Homo sapiens: one gene and its partner. The protein of the gene in region 1 purifies or fractionates together with the protein of each later gene. This does not show direct contact. Each region holds a gene or a part of one and is shown in the gene's direction. Other genes may lie near its edges.

Region 1 (10,480 bases):
AAAGTGTTTTCAAAAAGGACCCAACCCAGCTTCCTTGAAAAACAGAGTTATTTTTAAAGAGGTAAAAACTGATATTTTCATTTCACAAAGTTAAATATAAAATGAACTCAAAAGTGTCAAAATGACTGCACAATAGAAATGAGGTTTCAGGCCAGGCGTGGTGGCTCATGCCTGTAATCCCAGCACTTTGGGAGGCCAAGGGAGGCGGATCACAGGGTCAAGAGATTGAGACCCTCCTGGCTAACACGGTGAACACCCGTTTCTACTAAAAATACAAAAAATTAGCCAGCCATGGTGGCAGGCACCTGTAATCCCAGCTACTCAGGAGGCAGAGGCATGAGAATTGCTTGAATCCGGGAGGCAGAGGTGGCAGTGAGCCGAGATTGTGCTATTGCACTCTAGTCTGGGCTATAAGAGTGAGACTTCATCTCAAAAAATAAAAAAAAAAAAAGAAATGAGGTTTCATAGGCTACTCTGACCAAGCATTACCATAGACATGTTGTGATATATAAGTTAGATGTAGGAGAAAACAGTTGCATTCTCAGAAGCTGGCTTCATGACATGTGTCCTCTGGACTTCTGTGTAGCACCCTTTGAAGGGTGGAGGGTTTCAAGAGCTCGATGCCTGTTTTGGACTTCTCGCTAGAAACAGATGTTGTAGATGAAGATTACTACTGTGTGCCTTGGAAGTGACACAGAGAATTGCTACTGCACAGACCACAAAGCCACCACTTTTCAGGGATATTCTTACTTAGTTGTCATATGTTTTATGTCTCTCTTCACGTAGTCAGAAGCTGCTTTAGATTTGGGAAGGCTGGGGCTTATCTGTTACCCCTTGTTCTAGGTTGTTTCTCATTCTAGGTTGTTACAGAGGAAAACTCTAGTAGGTTTTGATAAATGACTATTTCTTACATCAAAGTACTATCCTGCATTATTTGGGATTGTAATACATTCCTATAGTACTTTATGGTCTTCAAAGCATTTGTCACTGATAAGTCTCCCGTTTTTCAGACAGAGAAACTAAGGCCCTAAGGAATAAGGGACTGGACTAAAGTCGCATTCCTAGCATGTTGGATACGTTCAAGTTCTCTCCATTCTGTAAGGACCAACTCAAGTGCCTCTTCCAAGAGGTCTTTTCTTAGTGTCCCCTCATTACTACTTTTTATATTTACCACATTCTAACTTGTAATATCATGTTCACATACATCTTATCTACCTTACCATGAACTTCCTAAGATCGAAAGCTGTTATGCATTTGTGTGTATCTCCTCACCTATCAGAATTGTTCTTCTTGGGTGCTAACCTGATGCACGTTCCCACACCAGCCTGCAGTTTCCTCTTCTAGGCTGTGGCTTGGAGGTCTGCAAGGCGCTGGAGTGGTGTCCAGGCACATTGTGGGCACTGCTGCACATTCAAGTGCATTGCCTTATTTTTAACATATAGATACTTAATGAGAGAGCTTTGTAAATGTTTATAAGGTGTTTTACAAATAGATGTTATTTGAATCTCATCCTTCCCTCCTTTATTTATTGCAGTTAGCACTGTTCTGGGCACATAGTAGGTGCTTAGTAATGTTTGTTAAGCATTTCTATATTCACTTGCTCCAGCTTACACTTTTATTCCCTCCTATTGTTGTATATGACTGTCTTTTTATATGTTTATATCTTGAATTCCCAACTAAACTGCAAGCTCCAGAGGGCTATAGTCTCAATAAATCTTTGCTGATTGCTTTTAAATAATACATGATAGCATACCAGCTAACAAAGCATGGCACAAGGTAAATCGTCCAATGTGAGTGTTTTTATTTAAGAAATGTTTTGGATATGTATTTTAAAATAGACATACACATCCCAAAAACATATATTTTAAACAGAGATCACTAAGGTAGGAGGGAACACCCAGGTCCACATGAAGGGGACAAAGAATAGTGCAGAAGTAAGGCTCATGGGCACTGCTGGCTGAGCTGCACACAGAAAGGGGTCTCCAGCTGATGGCCATTGGCTACATTTCTCTGTGGCATTGGAAGAGCTTTTGTTTCCTCTCAGAGCGCATTTCTTTAGTTTTTTGTTTGCAGATTCTTATCAGGTGGTAAGTGTGTGTTTTTTTTTTTTTTTTTTTTTTTTTTTGAGACAGGGTCTCACTCTGTCACCCAGGCATGTTCATGGCTCACTGCAGGCCCAACCTCTTGAGCTCAACTGATCCACCCACCTGAGCCTCCTGAGTAGCTGGGACTGCAGGCATGTGCCACCATGCCCAGCTAATTTTTGTATTTTTAGTAGAGACAGGATTTCACCACATTGGGAAGACTGGTCTTGAACTCCTGGACTCAAGCAATCTCCCCACCTCGGCCTCCCAAAGTGCTGGGATTACAGGTGTGAGCCACCGCACCTGGCCATGTGTGATATTTTTAAAGTAAGGTTGTCATTATCACATATCGAGGACTCTTCAACAAGGGACAGCCTGAACACTAAGCTGCCAGAACACACTTAAAAACTTGATACTTCTGGTACTTAGCCAATTGGTAAGAAGCTAAAGAGTCTGCCATGCAGTCCAACAGCCATGCTGACTAAACTCACCAGTTCTTTCATTGTTTTGATGTTGAACAGCTGTCTTTAATACACTTTTCTGTACTCCTGAGAATGTTCTAGTTACCATGCTGAAATGTTTAAATACCTACATTTTAAAATTAGAACTAAAATATAATGGGTTTGTTAATTAGGAGGACACTGGAGAGTTGGCTGTGAGAAGTTGTGACTTTGATAAGTCGATCTTTTAAAAGTAAGGGCAGTTGCTCTACATTTGACTTCTTTGTGTTCTCAAATTTAAAATATATGGCTGAAGATGAAAGATTCTGCACACCTCCACTTATTCATTCCCAAATCCCACATTTCATATTAAATTCACACAGGATACTATGTGATGCATATGAACCATTTTATATGATGCAGGGTACAGTATGCACAGGGGATAATTTATTTTCTAAATTTGCTATTATTAGACTTCTAATTACTCAGCTGGATAGAAGCAGAAAGGTCTCATTCTTGTACTAACTGCCGATTTTTTTTTTTTTTTTGAGACGGAGTTTAGCTCTGTTGCCCAGGCTGTAGTGCAGTGGTACAATCTCTGCTCACTGCAGCCTCCACCTCCTGGGTTCAAGTGATTCTCCTGCCTCAGCCTTCCGAATAGCTGGGATTACAGGTGTGCACCACCACGGCCAGATAATTTTTGTATTTTTAGTAGAGATGGTGTTTCACCACATTGGCCAGGCTGATCTTGGACTCCTGACCTCAAGAGTCCCACCTCGGCCTCCCAAAGTGCTGGGATTACAGGTGTGGGCCATCATGCCCGGCCACTAACTGCCAATTATTTAGCCAGAGATGACAGGCAGAAGGAATTCATTTTAGATTGTTCAGACTTAAGAAGTAACATTTCTTTCCAAGGAGGTCTAAACATATGTGTGTTTTATTTTTTAATAGCCCCAGTTCTTCACATTTTAATTAATCAAACAAAACCTGCAATTTAAGAAATATCTAGAAATGATTGGTCCAATTGTCCTCCTTTGTGCTCACGTCTCTCATGGAGGAAAGTCAGGATTCACTGTGGTTATGAAAGGAATCTGTACAATATATTTACCTTCTGTAAAATACTTGGATTAATATTGTTAAGCATCTCTAGGGAACATGGCATTCAATTAGTTTTTATTTCTTGTCATCTCTCACTAGAGAAAGAGCGCACACTTCTGTTTCCCTGAGGAGGTAAACTTGCTTGAAAAGTAAAATTTCCATTAAAATCTCTAATTTGGCTTTCTTAAATATAAATCTATTTTTGTTACATTTTAAATAGTCTTAAGGCTAAGTGACTAATGAGTACAGTAATAATATATCATTCTCTTTTATTCATCTGAAAATTATACTGTCTCGAGAGACCTGAGTTTTGTGTGTTTTGATTTTATTTCTTACTAAAAGACTTCTCTGTGATTGGAGGGAGCTGCAAAGCTGAGGCAAGTGTGGGACTCAGGGGACCCTGCGTGGATTTGCAGAGGAATAAGAGACTTGGTTTCCCATGGGATAGAGAATTTATGTTTAAGCATTGAAAGAGTTCTTCGATGTGCGAGGTGTTATGCGGAGTGCTTTAGTTGCACTATTTCATTTATTCCTCATAATCCTAAGGGATAGTATCCCCATTCCTATTTCTGTGAAAATTGGAAATCTAAATATGGATGAGGAGTGCTTTTTAATGAGAACACCCCATTTCCCGGCCATGACAACTGCATGTTTGCTCAGAAGTGTGGAGTTGCTGGGTGGGATGCTAAGATGACATACTGTTTCTTTTTTTTTTTTTTCTTTTATGGACTTGCAGTTTGAAACAGGCAGTAGAGCCCAGAAAGTACATATAAGGCACTCAATTGTACTGTTTAACACAAGCTGATTTTTAAAAAGTTAAATTTTCAAGAAGTCTTCCTCTAGTAACTGTCTGGGGGTATAACGTGTTTCATACCCACCCTATTTGATCTCTTCATTGTGAATTTCTTAACACCAGGGCACTGCTTTAATCAAAACCATTTAGAGGCGTTCACTTTAAAAAATAAAAGTTGCAGAAGATTGGGGGTGGCATTTCCCCTGTCGTCATGTGATAGCGAACACCTGAGAAATCTTTTAATGCCCACAGCTCTAGATTATAGGTGTGCCCTTCAAAAGCATCACAGAAAAACAAAAGGGTTACCCACCAGTCAAGGGTTTGGGACATTAACATGCTTTAGTTGAAAGTTATATTATGAAAAATGTCAGAAAAATGCATGAAAGGAAAATTGTTCCATGAGGGAAATACTACTGCTGAAACTCCAAGTGGAAGATGATGTTTTTAATATTCCCTTAGTTCCACATTTGTGTAGTTCTGTAGTGAAACGAGTCATTTAAGAGGGGAGGTGGCCCAGGCTAAAAATAAAGTTTCTTTGAAACCAGATGAGAGTCTAGCTATGCCAAAAATGGAATCCGGACTCTGTTCACTCTCGAGAATGTAAATAAGTAGAATTTTGTGTCACATAAAATAGTCTATGCAAAAAAGGATATTCACTGCCTTTTGTGATAGAGACTAAAATAACCATCAGGAGTATAGCTGTTCTGGGGACTCTGAAGCAACAGTGTAAAATGATATGGTAGTCTAACGTATTCTGATTTAGAAAGATGTCCAAGACAAAGAAAGTGCAGAACAACAAGTACTGCATGATTTCATTTTATGTACAGATGTATGAATATGTGCAGTTACTGGTATATTCATGCATAGAAAAAGAACTGGAAGAATAAACATGAAAATATTAAGTAGAGGGAATGAAAGTTGGAGAGTAAAGGAGGATTTTGGTGGGTTTACTGTGTATGTTTCTCTTTAAATCTTCACACACACACACACACACACACACACACACACACACACACACAATTAATAAAACTATAGAAACAAGGAAAGCAAAGCTTGAAGGTCTCAGTGAAGCTGTATAGTGGTTAAGAGTATAGACTCTGGAGTAAAAACTGCCAGGATTTGAATCTCAGCTCCTTGACTTACTGGCTACACATCCTTACGCAAGTAATTTAACTTCTGTGCTTCAGTTTACTCAAATGAAAGTCAGGATTAAGGGTACTTGTGTCATATTGTTGTTACAAGGATTAAATAAGTAATCCATGAGAGAGCATATAGACTAGTGCCTGACACATAGTAAATATTTAGCATGTATTAATTATTATAAATTATAATACTTAGGCAATGTCTAGCTATATTCAATTCTTTGTGCAAACTTTTTAGTTAAAAATGTTTTTAGTGACAGCGTTAGTGATCATAATGTATTTTTCCAAAGTTTTCATTGTCATTGTTAATGATATTGTCATTTTTTTTTACCTCATGGGTGTTCAGAACTTCACAAAGAAGAATAACAAAAACAGAGTTATCTGATTTTACTTAGAGTGCCATACATTCCACTAGTGGAGTACTCCTGAATTTGCATCTTTGACCATGTAATCTAATGTACATATTACTAGTAAACAATAGAAATGTAAATACATAATGAGGCTTTTCTTTGTTCCTCAGGAAGACTATGACCGTCTGAGGCCTTTATCTTACCCAATGACCGATGTCTTCCTTATATGCTTCTCGGTGGTAAATCCAGCCTCATTTCAAAATGTGAAAGAGGAGTGGGTACCGGAACTTAAGGAATACGCACCAAATGTACCCTTTTTATTAATAGGAACTCAGGTATGTCTGGTTTGATTTTCTGCATTTTAGAATAAGCTCTTTGGTCTGTCGTAGAGGCTGCTCTCAGACAAACAGTCCCAAAGCTGAGCAAATGATGTAAGTGTTTAATCTCAGCTGCAAGTTAATGAGTTCTATCATATTTTTGGAAAAAATTGTGCCAAAAGAAAGCAATTATTTTCCTGGTTTTTAAAAATTAAGTTCTTTTGTTTAATCTTTTTTTGGTATGTGGGAATTAAGTGGGATTACATGCTTTGATTTTTCTTTAAAGATTTGTAATATTATGGGACATTATTGACCTTTCTTAATTAGATTGATCTCCGAGATGACCCCAAAACTTTAGCAAGACTGAATGATATGAAAGAAAAACCTATATGTGTGGAACAAGGACAGAAACTAGCAAAAGAGGTAATGGAACACTCACAGAATTTAAGCATGAATGTAAAAGATGCTAAGATAACAATAGAAGCTAATTTTATTGTGTATTTACTGTGTGCCAGGTGGAGTGCTTTACATGCATTATCTCATTTAATCCTTGCATGAACTCAGTGAGGTAGGTCTGTTTCCCCTGTTACACAGAAGAGACAGTGGAGGCTGGGAGATGTCAGATAATTCGCCCAAGATCCTGCAGGTAATAAATGGCAGAGTTGGGTTTCAGTCCAAAGCCTGACTCCTGGGCCGAGACTCTTACACCTTTGCTACATTGCCAGTGATATTTTCCTAAAAAGTCACATATGGAAAAAAGCATCGGAAACACGTGTCACTACTTTCAACCCTTCTTCATTACTTAAACAGTTGCACTGTGCCAAATCAGCTCTGTCTTAAGACTCATTGAGTTAGACAGTGGAGCCACCTAGGATGACAGTTTAAATTTGTGGTTAAAACCAAAAAATGATGACTAGGTTTGAAAAGAAATGTGTTGAAATTTCTCCAATCTTTTTATGAAAAGAGGATAGAAAATACAAAAATTCTAAAAATATATGTAACAGTGATGCATGCAATACCTTGTAGCTTATCTTCCTTCGTGCCCCAAAGATAGGTTTACTTTTTCCCCTTTTTTCCCATTTGGCCTTAACATTATTGGATTCTATTTTTTAAATGTTGTGATTTCAATAGGACTTTTGTGGAAACAGAATCCATATATGGTCTTTTTTTTTTTTTTTTTTTTTGAGACGGAGTCCCACTCTGTGGCCCAGGTTGGAGTGCAGTGACGGGATCTCAGCTCACTGCAAGCTCTGCCTCCCGTGTTCATGCCATTCTCCTGCCTCAGCCTCCCAAGTAGCTGGGACTACAGGTGCCTGCCACCACACCCGGCTATTTTTTTTTTTTTTTTTTTTTTTTCATTTTTAGTGGAGATGGGGTTTTACCATGTTAGCCAGGATGGTCTCGACCTCCTGGCCTCATGATCTGCCCACCTCATCCTCCCAAAGTGCTAGGATTACAGGCATGAGCCACCGCGCCCGGCCCATATATAGTCTTTTAAAATGTAGTATCAGGAGGCAAAAGAAAGCAAGAAAACTTTCTGGAGGACAGTTTTTCCTAAAGCAAAAAATAAATGGCTTTACTAACAAATCACTTCAGAAATTCCATGTATTCAGTTTTGTAATCTTGGGGAGAGAAGGAATTTCTAAATGTCATAAAGATAAAAGCCATAAATGAAAATATTAATGATTTCACTGCATAAAAACTTAATACCACATCAAATGCCAGAAATAAAATGAAAAGTCATATAACCTGAGATGGATGGCAGAAAAATGGGTTAACATCCTTAGTATACAGGAACCTCTTGCATATGAGTTAATCAGAAGCAGCCACAGATACCAATAGAAAAATGGGCTAACAATGAAAAATTCACCCCCCAAAATGCAGATTGCCATTGAAGATAGGAAATATGTTCAAACTTATTAGTAGTCAAATGTAAGCTCAATTTGCACCTATAGAATTGGCAAAAAATGAGAAATTAATTATAATACCCGTGTAGTAAAATGGACACTCTGTTGTACTATTGGTCATTGAATCAAAGCAGTCTTGACAGTATGCAAAATCCTTAAAATCATGGACACTTTTGATCAAGCAATTCCATATGTAAGAGTTTATCCTAAGCAAATCATTAGGATGTTGGTCAAAGTGTACAGTGTTAGGAGGAATACATTTTTTGAGATAACACTGCACAACATGGTAACTACAGTTAATAATGGTGGTGCTGGGCACGGTGGCTCACACCTGTAATCCCCGCACCTTGGAAGGCTGAGGTGGGTGGATCGTTTGAGCCCAGGAATTCGAGACCAGCCTGGGCAACATGGTGAAACCCCATCTCTACCAAAAAAAAAAAAAAAAAAAAAAAAAAAAAAAAAAAAATTAGCTGAGCATGATGGTGCATACCTGTAGTCCCAGCTACTTGGGGGGCTGAGGAAGGAGGATCACTTGAGCCCAGGAGGTGGAGGTTGCAGTGAGCCGAGATAGTGCCATTGCACTCCAGCCTGGATGACAGAGTGAGACCCTGTCTCAAAATAAATGAATAAATAAATAATGGTGGACTGCGTATTTCCAAATTGCTAAAAGAGTAAATTTTAAATGTTCTCACCACACAAAATGATAAGTATTTAAGGTGATAGATGTTAATTATGTTGATTTAATCATTTCACTCGTGTGTGTGTGTGTATATGTATATATAGAGAGAAAATATTGCTTTGTACCTTATATAAAATTATAATTTGTCCATTTATAATATTTAATAATAAAAGTAAATTATTAGGGACGTACTTAGAGCTACAAAGATGCTGAATTGTTTATAATGGCAAAAATTCCCTGCATCTATTAAAACTTCATACTATCTGTTAAGATTTCATATTTATTATGTAGCTAAAGGGAAAAAAGTAGTTGCAAAACAGTATGATCTCATTTCTAGACTCATCAGCATTTGGCACAGTTGCGTCCTTCCTGAAACTTTCTTCAGTTGGACTCTCTTGGTTTTTCTCCCCTCTCATTGGACTCTGCTCCATCTCTTTACCTCCTTGGTCCCTGGTTGGAGGGCCCCAGTGATGAGCACTCAGCTTTGTGGATGTCTTCTTCTATAGCTACACTCCCTAGGCCTAAATGAGCTTCTGTCAGTCTTGTAGCTTGCACAGTCTACAACCAAAGATTCCTGGATTTCCATCTCCAGCCTGGACCTCTTTCCTAAATTCTCAATTTGGTTATCCAGCTGTTTACTCAACAAGTCCATCTACATGGCTGAGTATCTCAAAATTAACATGTCTAAGATATGATTCTTCTTTTACCCTCCAAGCCTGTCCTCCCAGTTACTCAGGTCAGAAGCCCTCAGCTGGGTGCAGTGGCTCACACCTGTAATCCCAGCACTTTGGGAGCCCGAGGCGGGCAGAATTACCTGAGGTTGGGAGTTGGAGACCACCCTGACCAACATGGAGAAACCCCATCTCTACTAATACAAAATTAGCTGGGTGTGGTGGCACATGCCTGTAATCCCAGCTAGTCAGGAATCTGAGGCAGAACCGCTTGAACCCAGAAGGCAGAGGTTGTGATGAGCCAAGATCGAACCATAGTACTCCAGCCTGGGCAACAAGAGTGAAACTGTCTCAAAAAAAAAAAAAAGCCCTGAAGTCGTACTTGACCTTGCTCTTTCTCCCATACCACACATCTAGCCTTCGGCACAACATACCTTCAGAACATATCCAGAATCCAGACACTTTTTTCTAACTCTTCCCTCTATCACCTGGTTCAGACCTCCTCCATCTCTGGCCTGCTTTACTGGAATAGCTTCCAACTCACCTTTCTGCTTCTGTCTATGCCCCATGGTCATCTGTTCTCAACACAGCAGCCAGAGTAAGTCTTAAAAATGTAAGCGCAATCATGTCACTGCTCTGCTCAGAATCCTCCAGTGGGTCCCCAGCTCAGACTAAACGCCAAAGTCCGCACAGTGGCCTACAAGCCTCTGTTCCCTCTCTGCCTTACTCATTGTTCCCCAGGCCTCCTGGTCTCCTTTGTTGTTCCCTCAAAGTTCTACCTGAGAACCTTTGTACTTTTGTTGTTCCCTCTGCCTGGAATGTTCTTCCCTATGGACATGATTCATTCTTTCACTCTTTTCAGGTCTCTGCTCAAATACCACATCCTCAGTGTGATCTTGTTCCTTGACTGCTCCAGGCATGCTCCTGCATCAGGATCTATCTGCCTGGAGCTCTTCCCCTAGGTATCCCTCACTGCTCAAACTTCCCCATTGAGAAGCC
Region 2 (12,180 bases), on another chromosome or scaffold:
GCTCCCAGTAGGAGGCAGTAGAGCAGCTGTGCCCCTTCCACAGAGGCACTGAGAGAGCATGGAGGGCCAGAGCCGTCCTGACTGGAAGCGGCCCTAGAGGGGACAGCACAAAGCCCAGCCTCTCCTCTGGAGCCACACACCAGGAAGTCTTGGCTGACGTGTTTTGTGCACAGCTGGGGTTTCAGACACAGCGAGGATTTGCTGCTCCCGGAGTGGCACAGGAAACCACCTGTGAAATTCGCCTGGGTCCCTTAGAGGTGCCCATTATACCCAAAGAGGGGCACAGTGGGGAGGACTATTTGACAGTCTGTCTCCTGGAGGGTGTCCCAGCCAGAGCCTAGGGGGTCCTTCTCTCTGTGGGTCCATGGGCTGGGAACCAGCCCCTGTGCATTCATTCTGCGCACATTTGCAGCTGTTACGGGACCATGCCTTTCTCTAATGCAATTCTTTGTTTTTATTTTTCATGCCACAAGGATGAAGTAAGTGTCTGCGTTCGGCTACCTCATAGAGTGCCATACGCCATGCAGGGTGTCTGTGGCCCGCATGGGTGGGTGTGCTGCCCCCGCTAGGCTCCTAGCAGTTCAGCTGAGGCTGCGCTGCTGTCAGGGGTATTGAGAGCCGGCCCTTCCCATCAGTGCCGGCTTGGTGTTGATCCCATTGGCCTTTGGAAGCCACCCAATCAGGATGAATTTATATTCAGAGGTCACTGTGGAGAACTCTGAGGTTCCAATTGAGTTCTCAGTCAATCTATTTTGGTCAGAAAATAATTAATAGATGAAAAGGTGACCCAGATTTGGGGTCGGGCCCAAGTCTGCCACCCACACTGCGTGGGCAAATCACATTGCCTTTCTGGGCCTCAGTTTCCTAATCTGACAAATGGACAGGTTAGACAGGATGCTTCTGAGTTGGCTTCCAACCCAAAAGTTCTGTAAGTACGTGTGAGCAGAGCCGTGGACTCAGCCACACCAAGTTTTAATCAGAGTTGTCTGGTAACTGGTGGAGATGGGGGGAAGGAGAGCTCATTAAACACCTGCGGGCATGCACAGACTCTTCTAGAAAATCAAGACACAGTCTCCATTCATGGTTTTGCCCTAGTCCATTTTCAGTGCGGTTGGTGAAGCCAGTTCGCCACCCGAGAACTCGTGAGGCTTCCAGGAGGAGCGTACTCTGCTTTGCTTCGTTAGCCCCAGCATGTGCTCAGATCACAGAGGAAAAGTCCCAGGGCAGCAAAACACTGGGGAGGGCCCTGCGCTTTGGAGACTGAGAGTCTGCTTGCCTGCCCCTTCTGTCAGCGGGTAGCCACCTAGCCCTGGTTTTATTTGCAGTGGCTTTATTTGCACCTGGTTTTATTTGCACCTGCCTTTCCACATGGCAGGCTTGCTCAGGTCTCCGAAGCCAACTGTCTTGACCCTGTGGCCCAGGGACAATTTAGGGCATCGACGCAAAGGATCTTCAGCACTTCAGGACAGGTGCCTCAGAGGCTGGCTCCTGTCTACTTTGGGAGGCTCAGCAGACATCTGGGGAGGCCACAGGGGCCCATGCTGGCCTGAGGGGGCTGGGACTGAGAACCTTGGTGGGTGGGGTCAGGAACAGGAGGCCCCGGACCTTGCCCTGGTCCTCGCCACCCCCGCTGGTCCTCTGGGAGGTGGGCAGCATGGCCTGGGGGTGGTTGTAGAGGTGCAAGCCTCCAGATCCCCTGATGAGCCCCTGCTTTGAACAGTGAGGAGGGGCTCAGGTCGTTTGGGTTCATAAGTGGGGCATGGGGAGCCTGAGGTCTTCTGGGAAACCAGGGAGAGCTGGGGCCCTGAGTCTACACATCAGATGCACAGAGCCAACTGCAGGCTCGCTGGGCAGGAACTGAGGACAGACGTGGCTTCCAGCAAGTAGTGAACCTTTGGTTTCTCTCCCTCGGCACCTGTTGCCTAGGAGTGGTCCGCAGACCTGAATCGAACCCTCAGCCGGAGAGAGAAGAAGAAGGCCACTGACGGCGTCACCCTGACGGGCATCAACCAGACAGGCGACCAGTCTCTGCCGAGTAAGCCCAGCAGGTGAGTGGGCGCCACCTCCATCCAAAAGAGGCCGTTCCATGGTGGGGGCCCTGGGCAATCTGCATGGTCCAGGGCAGCCCCGGCCTGGACACCTGGGAGGTTCCTGGGCTCCTGAGCTCTGTGGGCCGTGGCCCAGCCTGGACACCTGGGAGGTTCCTGGGCTCCTGAGCTCTGTGGGCCGTGGCCCAGGGGCATCTCCAGGGAAGGTCGTCTTCCTGCCTGGTGCCAGAGCTGCTGACAGATCCAGAGAGGGAGGCTTGGCCCTGAGCTTCAGACCTGAGTGGGGAGGAGCTGATGACAGGGCTGGCATTCATGTCCCCAGGGATAGCACCGCCCTGCCCGGACACTGGTGGAGGTGCCACCCTGGTTCCCTCAGGCAGCTGAGGTCCTGCCGAGGTTCATGCTCACTCTGTATTGTGTGCAGGCGCCAGTCGAGGGAGGGACAGGAGAGGACTGCCAGGCATCTCCTTTCCAAATTACCTCTTCACTAGGAGCATTGGTTATTTCTGACTTAGTCATTGGCTGAAAATGAGAGATATAAGGGTGGCACTGTGGTCATTAGAACCTTCTGGAAAGTGTGTGCTAGAGGAGGTCTTCCTATAGGACCTGCCCACAGGCCTCCATGTGACACTCAGTAATAGTCATTTCATACGGGGGCTTCCTAAGAAGGCTTAGCCCAGGTTCCCTTGGCCTTCCTGCAGCCCCAGGCACTGAAGCCCCCACCCAGGCTCCCCAGCAGGTGTGGCTGTCGTCATTCCGCTGCTTTGCACGCTGTCTGGGCAGGTGGGCTCGGCAGTAAGTGCCTGTCCCAGGGATCAGGCCAGCACCTGTATGCTTGGGGGTGGGAATGGGAAAGAAGAAACACTGCCTCAGAGGAGACCCTGGGGGCCCTGGGCTGGCCAGGGTTGCTGCACAATCCAGCCGCCCCCACCAGTGCCGTCTCACAACAGTCTGCTAGAGAAAGGTGCCAAGGAGGGAGGAGGGCCGGTGAGCTCAGACATGTGGCCTGGATATTGGCCTCCAGCAGGCCTAGGTCAAGTACCACTTGCCAGGCTGAAGTGGATGAGGCAGTTACTGGCCACTCAGGATCACCCTGGTGGCATTGGAGGCATGTCCTCGCCTCCCTTCCTTGGTTCTGGGGTGGTGGGTGCTCAGGCTGAGCAGTCCATCCAGTGCTTTGGGGGCCTGTGCCCTGAGGCCCTGGTCTTGGAAGTAGAAGGTGCTGCTGGCCAGGGTAGCCCGGTCCTAGGATCAGTTACTTGGTGGGGTGCCAGGGCCCTTGGTGCCTGTCTGATTGGATTGCTTGATGGTCTGCCTGTGGTCTTCGTAGTGTGTAACTCAGCTCCCGGCTCCCAGCCCTCAGGCAGAGCTTGGCCCAGATCTCTCTGGTTCCCACACTGGGCCTGGCAAACAGTAGGCAGTTGCACGACTGGATTTTCCCTCTGGAGCACCAAAGGAATCTTCTTTCTATCTAGAAAAGACGGTGCCGCAGGCCCTGGCCCTGATTTTGGAGGCTTCAGCTCCACAGAGCAGAAGAGCGAGCCCTGAACCCCTTAGTAGTCAGGAGGAGGCCGTGTGGGCTGAAGAGCTCAGAGCCCTCTCCCACTCATCCATGGGAGCCGGCCCCTCCCACACTGTCACTCTCAGAGGAGACCCTGAGGGGCTTTTTGACCCCCCCAGCTCACATTGGTGGGAGTCAGGACAGAGGAGAAGCCCTGAACCTGGAAACGACTTTTGCTCCAGCTGTGGCTTGTCACCCGCCCCTGGGCCACCCCAGGGCCCCTGTTCTGGACGGACTGTCTCCAGGTGCAAGGAAGGAAAAGGGAAACCAAGTCCTCTCCTAGGCTCCTGGACCGTGTTTCACAGCTGAAGTATTGCCCGCATTCTGCCATAGTAACCTTTCTGTTGAAACACCACGGTCCCCTCCGGTCACAGGAGGAGCTGATTTGTCTCTTGAGATCCTGCAGCTAGGAGTTGCCAGGACCCTCACGGGCCCCTGCAGAGCTGGGATCCCCTGAAAGCTCTCTCTCTCCATAGCACCCTTAATGTCCCGAGCAACCCCGCCCAGTCTGCGCAGTCACAGTCCAGCTACAACCCCTTCGAGGATGAGGACGACACGGGCAGCACCGTCAGTGAGAAGGACGACACTAAGGCCAAAAAGTTGGTGAACAAATGCTTCCTCTGCTCCCACCGCGCTCACTCTGTCTCTCTTCCTCTCTCTCTGTCCAGGGGTCTCACCCCTCGGCACTCGGCAATGCACGGAGCTCTGCAGGAAGTGGGCACCTGGCGTGCCGCACCCTGGCCCACTACCTGCTCTCTGGCACAGGCTCTCTGGCACCCCCATTCCTCGGGGAGGGCACAGCTAACAATCTTAAGTTGCTTTTTCTCTGTCCTCTGTTAACCCTTCAAGGCCCTAGCAGCACCATGACAGGAAAACAGACAACGCGCAGTCTGTGCTGGGGACTAGAGAGTGAGGCCCCAGGTTGGCCTCTGCTGTGGGCATCTCCAGCCGCCTGCCCCTGGAAAGCCTGTTGATGGCTCAGGATGAGTGTGGATGGCATGAACTCACACTAGCACTGGCTCCACCTGTGCTCCTTCGGAAGGAGCCCTCAGCCCTGAGCCCCAAGGCTCCAGTGCCCTCCCCTTGCGGGGCGGGGGCCTCACACCCTCTGCCGCCCTGTGCTGAGGGCCCTGTGGCCTCCCCTTTCTTGCAGTGTGAGCAGCTACGAGAAGACCCAGAGCTATCCCACCGACTGGTCAGACGATGAGTCTAACAACCCCTTCTCCTCCACGGATGCCAATGGGGACTCGAATCCATTCGACGACGACGCCACCTCGGGGACGGAAGTGCGAGTCCGGGCCCTGTATGACTATGAGGGGCAGGAGCATGATGAGCTGAGCTTCAAGGCTGGTAGGTGGGCTCCCCCAGCATCCAGGGGAGGAGGGCTTCCAACCTGCAGGCTGTGGGCGGTCTTTTTTGTTTTTTAAGTCTGGAAAAGTTCTTGCTAGTTTCACTTGTGAGTCACTGCAGGCCCTTCCCCAGTGCCCTGGCTTCATTGTCAAAAGCAGCCAATTGGCTGGATGTGGTGGCTCATGCCTATAGTCCCAGAGCTTTGGGAGGCCGAGGTGGAAGGATCGCTTGAGCCCAGGAGTATGAGACCAACCTGGGCAAAATGGCAAAACCTGTCTCTACAAAAAATACAAAAAATTAGGCCAGGCATGGTGGCTCACGCCTGTAATCCCAGCACCTTTGGGAGGCCAAGGCAGGCAGATCACTTGAGGTCAGGAGTTCGAGCCCAGCCTAACCAACATGGTGAAACCCTGTCTCTACTAAAAATACAAAAATGAGCCAGGCGTGTGGCGGGGCATCTATAATCACAGTTACTCAGGAGGCTGCGGCAGGAGAATCACTTGAACCTGGGAGGTGGAGGTTGCAGTGAGCCAAGGTCACACCACTGTACCCCAGGCTGGGTGACAGAGCAAGACTTTGTGTCAAAAAAAAAAAATTAGCTGGGCTAATTTTAGTGGCACATGCCTGTAGTCCCAGCTCTCTGGGAGGCTGAGGTGGGAGGATCACCTGAGCCCAGTAGATTGAGGTTGCAATGAATCATGATTGTACCACTATACTCCAACCTGGACAACAGAGCGAGACCCTGTCGCAAACAAACAAACAAATAAATAACCTGGGCAACAGAGCGAGATCCTGTCTCAAATAAATAAACAAACAAAAGTAGCAGATTAGCTGGGCGTGGTGTTGCATACCTATAGTCCCAGCTGCTTGGGAGGCTGAGGCAGAGGATCACTTAAACCCAAGAGGATACAGTGAGCCATGTTCATACCACGTACTCTAGCCTAGAAGAGAGAGCAAGACCCCATCTCTTAAAAAAAAAAAAAAGTAGGCTGGGCATGGTGGCTCACGCCTGTAATCCCAGCACTTTGGGAGGCCGAGGCACACAGATCACGAGGTCAGGAGATTGAGACCATCCTGGCTAAGAGTGTGAAACCCCGTCTCTACTAAAAATACAAAAAATTAGCCGGGCGTGGTGGCAGCCGCCTGTAGTCCCAGCTACTCGGGAGGCTGACGCAGGAAAATTGCTTGAACCCGGGAGGCGGAGCTTGCAGTGAGCCGAGATTGCGCCACTGCACTCCAGCCTGGGCGACAGAGCAAAACTCTTTTTCAAAAAAAAAAAAAAAAGCGGATGCCCAATGCCAAGACTCAGAAATAGTGAGGTGCTGCCAAGCCAGTGCCTGGACTCCTCACCTTGCTGGGCCAAGGCTGTGAATTGCAGGGCACTGGCTAGTCACACAGAAGGGCATCTGGAGAAGCTGTTGGCCAGGACCACCAGGTTCCCCCATATGTAGTCTGGGAGCTGCTAGCCCCGCAGGGCCATGAGAGAAGCCTTTCTCTAGGGGTCCCCAACTGCCAGAGAAGCCCTCAGGAGAGCCACAGCTTTGCCCAGACCCCAGAGTAGCACTTGGCATGCCCCTGGGCCAGGTGGGGCCTTGTCTCAGGCAGCAACTTGTGTGTGTGCACACCTACCTGCCCACACCTACCATGCACACACCAACCCACACACATATCTGTGTTGCTAGGAGCAGAAACCATAGTTTTATAAAACAGCCTGGATCCTGATTACATGTGCTCTGCCTGTGAAGACTTTCTGTGCAATGTCTTTTTCTTCTTTGAATGGTCTTCAATGATAATCTTTTTTTTTTTTTTTTTTAATAGAGACACGGTCTCACTCTGTTAGCCAAGCTGGGTTACAGTGGTGCGATCATAGCTCACAGCAGCTGCAGCCTTGATCTCCTGGGCTCAAGCAGTCCTCCCACCTCAGCCTCCTACGTAGCTGGGACCACAGATGTGTGCTACCACCCCACCCACTATAGGAATCTTTTTTAATGCATTTGCAGTTTACCAAAATGGCTTTTCACATCTTCAATTTGAAAAGTGTTATCTTGTCCGGGCACGATGGCTCACACCTGTAATCCCAGCACTTTGCGAGGCCAAGGCCGAAGGATCACTTGAGGTCAGGAGTTTGAGACCAGCCTGGCCAACATGGTGAAACCCTGCCTCTATTAAAAAATAAAAAAATTATTCAGGCATGGTGGCACACACCTGTAATCCCAGCTACTGGGGAGGCCAAGAGAATCACTTGAACCTGGGAGGTGGAGGTTGCAGTGAGCTGAGATCATACCACTGCACTCCAGCCTGGGTGATGGAGTGACACTCTGTCTCAAAAAAAAAAAAAGGAAAGAAAATTGCTATCTTAGCACCTAAGGAAGCTGGAGTGGCCTAGGGCCAAAGTGGACCCACAGCAACCCAGATTCTTCCCTCTCTTGCCCTCTTTGTGAAGCTCCCCCAGAAGCAGCATCTACCACTCCAAGAGGGAAGCTGGGCCAGAACTCAACCCACACAGGCTGAAGTGTGCCCTTGCCCCTAGGCTACACTTGTGGGAAAGGCTGCCTTACCACCACCACCCCAACCCCTGACTCAGCAGGGAAGCCAGGGCCTGGGGGCTGTGCCCAATGGCCTAGCTTCTAACCAGTCTTCAGCCTCCTCCCCTCAGCACCCAGAGTGCCAGCCTGCTGTCCCCAGACACTCTTCCCCTGGGCTGGTTATCAGCTGCCTCTGCCCAGTTTGAGAAGTTGGGTTTTTTTGTTTTTTTGGATTTTTTTTTAATGTGCCTTTAAGCCATCTTCATCCAGTTTCTGATATCTTTGGTTGGGGTTGTTACCCCCGACTTTGTTGGTTTATTTGTTTATAATTTCTAACTCCTTTTCAATCCTGCCTATTGGGTTTGACAGTAATTTTGTAGATTTAAAATGTTTCTTCCAGATCCAAGTAAATTGTCAAAAGCAAACTGATTGAAATGAACCTTCTAATCACCAGTTCACATTTGCACAATGTGAAAGCTTTCCTGTCCGTTCTATTTTCTGTGTTATCCTGCTTTTTAACAATGCAAAATTAGCTCCCAGCCAGTGTGGCTTGACTTACGTCTCTTGCGGTGTTCTGGCTGTTTGCCACATGGTAGTGTGGGGTTACAGGCCTCATCCTAGCCTCGGTAGCCTGGATCCAGGCCTGTGAGAGCACAGCAACCAATGAAGGCAGGACAAAAGAAACGCCAGGGGCCCGAGGCACGAAGCGGTGGAAAGAGATGGTGGTTCATCGTGGCTGCTGCCCTGTGGCCCCTGCATCTGCTCCTGATGCCTCTGGGTTAGATCTGCAGGCGCACTGGTCTGGCAGAAGCGGCACGACAGTGGGAGGCTGAGCCAGTGCTTACGCATGTCCCACCCTCCCAGGGTTCTTTAGTGTCTTAACACTTAATCTTCACAGTACCCCCAGTCCACAGATGAGGGCCACAGGCCCAGGGAGTGGACGCAGTTGGTCCAGGTCTCCCAGCCAGTGAGTGATGGCTGTGGGATTTGAGCCCAGGCAGTCCGGGGAGCACTGGAAGCCCCAGGTATTAGCTCCGCAGGCATGTTGACCAGCATTGCTGCCATACAAAATCCAAAGCATCAGGGAAATGCTAAACCAGGGGGAAAACTGCATCTAATTCTGAAAAATGGACCAAAAAATGCCAAAGAGAGTTACAAAACTTCAAACTTAGCAATAAAGGCAAAACAGCACTGGGACTATTTCTTTCCCACCAATTGCTTGCTCCTGACGAGGTCCGAGCCAGCAGGCCCAACTGGCCTTCCCTGCAGTGAGTTACCAACCAGAAGCACACAGGCCCCTGCCCACCCCTGGGCTCTGAGCTGCTCTGCTTCCCTAACCTGGCAAATGCCAGACCTGGGGCCCTACCCTAGTGCCACCTCCCCCTCACCACCCTAGTCTGCCTCCTTGAGACCAGGATCCATCAGTTCCTCTCATCTCTGTATCTCCTCTTCTACCCAAGGCCTGGCCAGAAGTAGGAGGTCCTTCAGGTTGGAACAACCAAAGATAAATGGAACCACGTTAATACATTAGAGCCACAGGGAGATTCCAGAACAGCGCCAGGGGCTCCTTCTCAGGGTCTCAGGAAGGGTTGACACATGGCACCGTGCACAAGTCATCAGCCAGGTGCTGGGGATAAAATGACAGGTATGACTGTCAGACATGGTCCCTTCCCCTCGCAGCCTGGAAGTTGCAGAGGAGAGGGATTAGCAAAGGCAGAGAGACCCCAGAGACAGCTGCTGGGAGCAAGGCGGCCGGGGCCCTGGGGAGGGGACAGAAGAGGCCCAACGTGAGGGAGGGGCACAACCGAGGGACGATTCCTGCCACCTGGCCAGGGTGGTGAGGAAGGCACAGCCCTATGGAGCTGGATGCCGCAGTCTCAGTGGGAGCCACTGTGGCAGCTGAGAGCAGCTTGTTCCAAATTACTGTGTGAGACTGTCATCTCTAGGTCTGTCAGAGGCCCATGACCAAAGAGGCAACTTAAAATGCATGCATTTAGTAGAGAAATGACCAGGCCCTCGGCCTGCCCGCCACAGAATGCCTGGCCCTCCACCCTCTGTGGGCTCAAAGCTCGTGAATGCGGCTCTGTAGCCCACCGTCGGTGTCATACCTCTCATGGAGACGGCTCCCTCTTTGTCTTGCAGGGGATGAGCTGACCAAGATGGAGGACGAGGATGAGCAGGGCTGGTGCAAGGGACGCTTGGACAACGGGCAAGTTGGCCTATACCCGGCAAATTATGTGGAGGCGATCCAGTGATGAGTCGGGGACAGGCCAGCGGGGGGACGGAGGCGGCGGGCCCAGGAGCCTCAGCCAGCCACGTGGGCATCCACTCCTTTTCCTGCAAGAGATGATGGTTCCATTGCTCTTGGCTTCATGGTGTTCCTGGAAGGCAGATGAGCTGGTCATTTCGCCTGGGACTCGGCACCTTTCCGAGTGCAGCTGGAGGGATCTGAGCGCAGGAAGACGCAGAACAACAGAAATAGCCGCCCCTCCCCGCCCACTGTGCCTGTTGGCCTATCATAGATCTCTATGTTCTTGACTTTGTCTCTCCTTTCCGAGTCAATGGTGGGTTACACTGATCTTGTTCCACTGATTACTCTCTCTGACGAGTCCATCACCTGCAACTTAAATGAACAAGCTTACATCCCATTTTGAGTGAAGATTTTGAGGTTTTTAATTTAAAGGCTGTGTACAGTTATACTTTTTTATACACCTGTTCATTTCTACTTAAATTATGGCACAGATTGATGCGCACCAGTCTTGAGGAAACGATCTCCCTATTCCCTTACCCTGTTACTCAGCCACGCCGTGTGTAGGCTTAGCCTCAGGTGGCAGATGTTTGAGGAAAGGAATTATGCCAGGAAGGTGGGACCGGGTTATGGTCGGGTTTCTATTGGGAATGCTCTTTGTGCTTTTGGGCATCTGAATGGAAGCTTTACATAGAACCTTAGGTAGAACTCCCCCAAATCGCCATATTTAAAAATTATTTTCACTCTATTCTTGCTTAAAACTGTACTCTTTTGCAAATTAACAATTTTATCACTGATTCAGAGTTAAAAAGAAGACTAACTTTTCAAGCAAATGCATCTGTAAAGATGCTTTAGATTAGACTGTCATGTCTCAGTGTCTATCTGTATATATTATTTGATATTCAGAGAATCTAAAGCACTCGTCTACTGTTTTAATGAGATTTAACAGCTTTTAACAGTGAGTTTCGTTTGTAAACTGCTTGAAGTCTGTGGCATTCAGGCACACGTCTGGCTGGCCGGCTGGGTCTCCTCCCGGGCTCAGTGGGCCTGGGGCCTCTCTGACGTGGTGCCTGCTGGAGGGAGGCTCGTCGTCACCAGCTGACTGCTGGTCCGGCTTCTGACCGGCCTTTGTCCTGGCTCCGTAGCAGAACACTGTAAAAGTGCCCGCGTCTTTGCAGTAGTTGCAGATTTCAGTCGTCGTGTTACTTGTGCACAAACAGAAGCTGGGTCTTACCCGCAGCACGAGTGTCTCGGGCTGCCCGGAGTCGCCCGGGAGCAGGTGCTGCAGCCAGAGTTACGCGGGGGCCACGCGGGCCGGCGGGGGTGGGGGGAACGTGGGGGAACCTGTGTTTCACGTGACTCAGCAGTGCCCGCCGCCGTCACCAGCTATGCATTCACTCCGTTTCCAGTGAGCAGATGTCTTGCTTGGAAAGTGGACCTGTGTCTGTGTCTGTCCTGAGAACTTACCAGCAGAAATCCTCATTTCTGTGCTACGGATTTACCAAAAATTGTCAAGTCTTTTTCAGTTTAACAGTTCCTTTACATGTGTAGTATTTGAGGAAAAAAATCAATAAACAGTTGATCTCGTGCATATGGAAGTCCCTTCGCCATCATCTGTCTTCATGCCCACTTCACTTGGCGGGGGTGGCCTCCCTGGGGCTTACTAGCTTTGGAGCTGGGCAAGATCCAGGGCACAGGACCCCTGCCCAAAAGGCCACGGCCCACTGCCCCTGCCAAACTGGAGGTTGGGGATTTGAGGCACCTGAGCCCCTTGGGGTTCCCTTCTCCCCGAGACCTGCTGCTGTTTGACCTGGGCTTCCACATGGTGCGGGCATCGGCTGGCGCCTCTCTATTGCCCCAGCCCAAACAGCAGGACAAGACTGACATCACCCATAACTCTCCTATGAGCACATTTTCCTGAGCACCTACTGTGTGCTCTCCACTTTTTACTTACATTATCTGCGTCTCCAAACATCTCCACAGGGTATGGGCAAGTCTCCCCATTTCCATTCTACCGAGGAGGAAACAGAGGCTCCAAGAGCCAGCCAGGGTTTCTTGAGGAGTCTCAGCCAGCCCAAAGCACTGAGCGAAATCCCTGAGGAACCACCCCCTCCCTCGCTGGAGAAACTGAGGAGGGAGGAGGCTTGGACTGGCTTGAAGACAGGAGAGAAGCAAGACGTGAGGGCGGCTGTGGCCACGCTCACCGAGCCCTGGGAAGGCTGCCCAGAAAAGCACGCCAGCTGGGCATGGGGCCTCACAGAGCACCTGGGAGGAGCAAGGCAGGCAGCTGCCCCTGCAGTGTGGCTTTGTCCCAGCTCAGCAAGGGTATGGGACAGATCCTTGTCACGCAGCCTCCTTGTCTGAGGGGTGGCGGGTCCCCTGCTCCCAGCTTCTGAGGAGTTGGAGCCCTACAGCGCAGGGCGGACACCCGGCTCGGCCCACAGCCCC

What was found.
Region 2: the proteins of RHOQ (region 1) and PACSIN2 purify together in Homo sapiens (affinity purification with mass spectrometry; 2 studies listed by BioGRID and IntAct, with this or other methods). This does not show direct contact.

What each region holds. Positions count from the first base shown.
Region 1 is NC_000002.12:46,570,010-46,580,489, forward strand, and holds part of RHOQ (rho-related GTP-binding protein RhoQ), read left to right. Parts: intron 1-6,077; coding exon 6,078-6,242; intron 6,243-6,551; coding exon 6,552-6,647; intron 6,648-10,025; exon of another isoform or gene 10,026-10,229; intron 10,230-10,480. UniProt on the Homo sapiens protein: Plasma membrane-associated small GTPase which cycles between an active GTP-bound and an inactive GDP-bound state. In active state binds to a variety of effector proteins to regulate cellular responses. Involved in epithelial cell polarization processes.
Region 2 is NC_000022.11:42,868,916-42,881,095, reverse strand, and holds the end of PACSIN2 (protein kinase C and casein kinase substrate in neurons protein 2), read left to right. Parts: intron 1-473; coding exon of another isoform or gene 474-479; intron 480-1,926; coding exon 1,927-2,048; intron 2,049-4,085; coding exon 4,086-4,208; intron 4,209-4,762; coding exon 4,763-4,959; intron 4,960-5,565; exon of another isoform or gene 5,566-8,604; intron 8,605-8,636; exon of another isoform or gene 8,637-9,111; intron 9,112-9,592; exon of another isoform or gene 9,593-9,626; coding exon 9,627-9,739; 3' UTR 9,740-11,323; downstream 11,324-12,180.